Linked DNA regions of Homo sapiens: region 2 is linked to region 1. The links come from fine-mapping of genetic effects on plasma protein levels. A gene starts in region 1. The other region holds a variant in brackets. All regions are shown on one strand. Distances are from middle to middle.

Evidence for each region. PIP is the chance, under the fine-mapping model, that this variant and not a neighbour inherited with it causes the effect. The UK Biobank Pharma Proteomics Project read protein levels with antibody pairs (Olink). The fine-mapping took linkage between variants from a reference panel, not from the people measured, so its PIPs are less certain.
Region 2: its variant is fine-mapped to the plasma level of the OSMR protein (UK Biobank, PIP above 0.99). The variant lies in the coding sequence of OSMR. If it changes the protein, the assay may bind it differently, which can mimic a change of level.

What each region holds. Positions count from the first base shown.
Region 1 is chr5:38,844,388-38,847,406 of GRCh38, forward strand. It overlaps OSMR (oncostatin M receptor), which reads left to right and starts at 1,625. Exons shown (of 18, transcript NM_003999.3): 1 at 1,625-2,000. OSMR-DT (OSMR divergent transcript) reads right to left here and starts at 1,442. Exons shown (of 4, transcript NR_109951.1): 1 at 1,281-1,442.
Region 2 is chr5:38,882,516-38,885,015 of GRCh38, forward strand. OSMR (oncostatin M receptor) reads left to right here. Exons shown (of 18, transcript NM_003999.3): 5 at 1,312-1,596. Among named protein-coding and RNA genes, the nearest start is that of OSMR, 38 kb to the left of the region's middle. The variant A/G (reference allele first, on the strand shown) is at 1,534.

The DNA.
Region 1 (3,019 bases):
GGGCTTGGCAGTTTCCATAACCATGCAGATGGCTAAACTAATGGACTCTTTAAAACTCTTCAAGTAATGAGAGGTGTGGCAAAGGACCATACATTTATTGAGACAAAAATACATTTTATTATCATCAAATATTTACTATGCATCATGGTCTTTGTGGCCCCATTAGGTATTAAGTGTATTAGGGCCTTTAGGCCTTTGTTTTAGGAAAAATAAAAAAACAAAAGGACTCTCAGCTTTCCTTGGGATGACATTGGGGAGGAGCCAGATATGTGAACAAACACAAAAGTAACATTTTAAAATAATTCTGACATTATTTTGAGTCATCCAGTCAATTCAATATAGGATTCTAAGATATGTTTATGGTCGATACTTGTTGATCACTCTTGGTTCCCTCCCCCACCCCCCTCCTACAACCTTGCTTTTGTGATACTTTCCAGGGTCCCCAAACTCAAACCAAACTAGGCTCAGCTGATCTGGAGCAAGGCCCCTTGCCTGCTGATTTGTCAGGCATCCAGACAGGCGAGGCTATGGGAGCTCCCGGTCCGAGGCTGCCTCGGAAGGCTCCTGTTATCCTCTAAGAGAGGTGAAATGCACCTTTCAAAGGCCCAGACACGGTAAAGATTGGATGGCATTTTTGGCCGGGCGCAGTGGCTGACGCCTGTAATCCCAGCACTTTGGGAGGCTGAGGCGGGCGGATCACGAGGTCAGGAGATCGAGACCATCCTGGCTAACACGGTGAAACCCCGTCTCTACTAAACATAGAAAAATTAGCCAGGCGTGGTGGCGGTCGTCTGTAGTCCCAGCTACTAGGGAGGCTGAGGCAGGAGAATGGTGTGAACCCGGGAGGCGGAGCTTACAGTGAGCCGAGATCGCGCCACTGCACTCCAGCCTGGGTGACACAGTGAGATGCCGTCTCAAAAAAAAAAAAAAAAAAAGGTTGAAGATTGGATGGCATTTTTAAGGGGAAAAGTAAACCATGTGTAGCATGTCGTAGCATTGGGAAATAAAGGTTTCGGGACTGTTGTAGCCGAAGAAACTTTGTCGGACAGGGCGTTTCTGGATAGAACGCGAGTAGGGGAAAAATGGGGACCGTTTGATTCGGTTCAAACACGTTTTCGTTGCTCTGGACGCCAAATGGAAACACGGCCAAAATTTAGTTAAAGGACTTCTCTTGCCTGAAGATTTTCGGACGGGGATCTCACGGGTTTGGCCTCTGGGTTGGGATGACAAGTGCCCCTGTGGGATACACAGCCCCAGGCCTCATCGGTCACTCGGCTTACCTCTGGTTCCGCCGGCTGGCCCGTGCGTCCTTGGCCGGGGCAGGAGCAGCGCTGCGCGCGGGGCACGGAGCCTCGGCCGCCGAGTTTTCGGTTTCCAAGTTTCCTTCCCAGGCCTCTCCCACTTCCTCTTCTCACCAGTGCCCGCCCGCCCGCAAAGTCCGGGTTGTGAGGCTGCGCCTCCCCCAGGATCGCGGCCGCCTCCCCCCGGGACTGAAGGGAGGGAATTCCTGTGGGTCCCAGGAGTGCCAAGAGTGCGCAGCAAGACGGGAAATTGCAAAAGACCTCACCCCTCTGCCCTCCCCCGCGGTTTTCCAGTAACTCCCGCCCCTCCGCGCTTGCCCCGCAGCTGATTCATAGCCCCGGCCCGGGCCGCCTCTGCACGTCCGCCCCGGAGCCCGCACCCGCGCCCCACGCGCCGCCGAGGACTCGGCCCGGCTCGTGGAGCCCTTCGCCCGCGGCGTGAGTACCCCCGACCCGCCCGTCCCCGCTCTGCTCGCGCCCTGCCGCTGCGCCGCCCTCGGTGGCTTTTCCGACGGGCGAGCCCCGTGCTGTGCGGGAAAGAATCCGACAACTTCGCAGCCCATCCCGGCTGGACGCGACCGGGAGTGCAGCAGCCCGTTCCCCTCCTCGGTGCCGCCTCTGCCCAGCGTTTGCTTGGCTGGGCTACCACCTGCGCTCGGACGGCGCTCGGAGGGTCCTCGCCCCCGGCCTGCCTACCTGGTGGGTGAAAACTAAATGATTCATTCCTTACAGGCCGCACAGTGCCGAGTCGCCCATTTCTCAGACTGTTTGAAATTCACCATCCCAGCGCCTTTTTCTCAAATGATGGTGGAATGTTTGTTGAGTGGAAAATTCCCACTTGAATCCCTCTTTCCTCTCTCCCAACACATCGTGTGGAGGAGTTCATTGCTTCCCCTACCTCTCCTCTCGTAACCCTTGACTCCCACCTGAGAGAGCCATTTTTCTGGGAATCCGTGTATCTCTCCCACCTGGTCCCTAGCGTAGAAGCGGGAGGAGCTCAAGCACAGGTGGAGAGAGGAATCCCCGGGCGACTCTGCAATAGCGTCCGTCCGGGGCGCTTACCTTCTTCTCCAGCCACTTGAGTGGAAGTGGCCCTCTACATTCTGGAAACCTAGGCACGGAGGGGTTCAGTAACTTGTCCAAGGCCATATGGCTAGCTGTGAGGGCACTGAAATCCGAGCCCGGCTCTCGCAGGCCAGGGCTTTACCCCTGACACCGCGATTCCTTTCTCGATAGTTCTTCATCTGCCCTTCATCCACCTACCCATGCATGCCTGCATCCGTCCATCCATCCTGCCTGCCTTGCTGCGGGAGGCACAGTGCTAGGTGCTGCTGATGGAGTGGCTTGGTAACAGACCTGCCTTGAAAACACTTTGGGAACAAGATATTCAAGAGAAGTAAATGGAAGGGTCTATGAAGGCAGAGAAGATAGAATTGAATGTAGGATACTTAGTTTGAGCTAGAAGGAATTCTGATGGAGGAGAAAGAAATTTTTAGGTTTTATTCCCAAGATTAAAACTGACTTTGGAACATGGGTCAAACTACTTATCACCTCTTAGTTTCCTTGTCTGCAAATAATAATGGTTCATACTTACTGTGAACCAGCCCCTATTCTAAGCACTTGACATATGCTAGCTCATTTAAGCTTCACGGGTGAGGCGGGTACTAGTTTTTTATTATATTTTATTGAGGAAACTGAGGCCCAAAGAGGTTTTGTAA
Region 2 (2,500 bases), 38 kb after region 1:
AGTGAGCCTAGATTACACCACTGTACTCCAGCCTGGGCCACAGGGCAAGATTCTGTCTCTCACACACACACCAAAAAAACAACAGATGGTGGACTCAAATTGTAGCTCCCCCGAATCTAGACGGCGGGGTGGGGGGAAGGGGGGTGGAATATGGAAAAATGAAAGTGGTGTGTTATTTGAAAAATGAGATTATTTGCGCACGTTAAACTAATAATACTAATGAGATAATAATAATTGAATTAAATCTATGACCTAGTCACTTTTTAAAGTACTATACATATTTAGTTCTCATGTCAGTCCTATAAAAGGACTTCTTATCCTCGCTTCACAGATAAGGAAACTGAGGCACTGAGAGGTTAAAGAAGCCATGCAAGGTCACCACGCCACTAAGTGCTGGAGCTGGAACTCCAACCCAGACAGTCTGGCTCCAGAGGTCATGTGCTTAACTATTACATCCTACTATGGAAAGAAGGACACATACACAGGGAAAGAAAAGATATTAAAAAGATAGTAAGAGGTTGGGTGTGGTGGCTCACATCTGTAATTCTAGTACTTTGGGAGGCTGAGGTGGGCGGATTGCCTGAGCTCAGGAGTTTGAGACCAGCCTGCACAACATGGCGAAGCCCCAGCTCTACTAAAAATACAAAAAATCAGCTGGGTGTGGTGGCACATGCCTGTAGTCCCAGCTACTCAGGAGGCTGAGGCACAAGAATTGCTTGAAGGTTGGATTTTTTAAAAACTTTTAAAAATGAATGTTTTAAAGACCCCTCACACTTGAGGGACTCGCATTTCTGAGAAGGTAGGGAGAGATATGATCTCCAGTACAATGAAGAGATTACGAGGGATTTTGGAGATGCATAGACCTTGCCAGTCTGAATGTGGCTTTGCCACTTTCTAACTGAGCAAACTTTGGCTAAGTCTTACCTGACCTGTTGTTGTAAGGTACTAAGAACGACATGAGATAATGTACATAAACACTTAACATGGCCTTCAGCAGGGCTGGGACTTGATAGAAAGCAGTTACAATAACCCAGCAATAGCAATCATGCAATTATCAGAGTGGTAATAGTAATGTGCTGTCTGTGGCAGTAAGAGCAACAGCAGTGGTATCAGTGTAACAATAGGAGCAGTGGTGGAAAGGATTGTCTTGCATGCACCAGAGGGTAGAGGTTTGGCAGAGAAATTTAGGTTGCTATTTTCTCCAGGAGGTAGAAAAAGCTAAAGTTATCTGCTGAAGGCAAATGGATAACTTGTTTTAAGAGGCTTGAATTTTGAGTGCGATTCTAACTTGGCTATTTTTTTTTCTTGCAGTACAAGATTCTACTGGACAGGATATATTGTTCGTTTTCCCTAAAGATAAGCTGGTGGAAGAAGGCACCAATGTTACCATTTGTTACGTTTCTAGGAACATTCAAAATAATGTATCCTGTTATTTGGAAGGGAAACAGATTCATGGAGAACAACTTGATCCACATGTAACTGCATTCAACTTGAATAGTGTGCCTTTCATTAGGAATAAAGGGACAAATATCT[A/G]TTGTGAGGCAAGTCAAGGAAATGTCAGTGAAGGCATGAAAGGCATCGTTCTTTTTGTCTCAAGTAAGTGTGCAAATTCTCTGTGGCCCTTTCTTCTCATTTCCTGAGGAATAGATTAAATCTCCTTTACTAGAAGACAAATAAACATTTCTACCCATGATCTTGATTTTCTTTTGTTTCCCAAGTTTTCTAGGAGAGGCTCTGAAGTCGATGTCCTTTAGTAATATTTCCAGGATTTCCTGTTGTTTTCTTGTCCTTACTGAGAGTTGTATTCCTAGAAATCAATAGTATTAAAGAAGACACAGTTCAGGTCATGACCTGGACCACTGGGAAAATACCCTTTTTTGCCCAGCCATGCTGGAATTACTTCGGGATCATGGAGGGAGGGTAGGAGCTACAGATTGGACAACCATGGAGTCAGCCAGGATTGTGGCCTAGGAGACCTGGGTTTGAATCTTCTTTCCCTGGCTGGGTGTGTCATCTCGCCAAGTTTCCTAGCCTCTCTGAGCCAGTTTCCTCCTTTGTAAAATGGGGACAGTGATGGTGATTGTGAGGATTAATGAATGTGGGTAGTGCCTAGCCCCAGTAATAGCTGCATGCAGTAGGAGATCAGCAAATGGAGGCCATTACTGTTCTTAACTGTGCAGTAAATTGGTTCCATCGGATACATTAGTGGAGTGGGAACATTTTTTTATATAGGTTTGTGTGTGCACAACTAGTGGCCTCCTGTATTTTGAGCATCTCCTTCCCTTGCACAGTAGGGAACATCTCCCTCCCTGCCTCCCTTGCCAAAGTCAGTCTCCAGTCTCCTGGATGCCTGGTTCATCTATGTCCCCTTAGCATGACCACTAAGGGCAGCAGTAACGCTGGGGATTTGGAGGTGCTTTGCCATTCCCTGAACACTCAGCTCCTGCCTGTTGAATTTAGCAGGTGTACAAATCTGACTGATTTCCTTGCATCCCCGAAG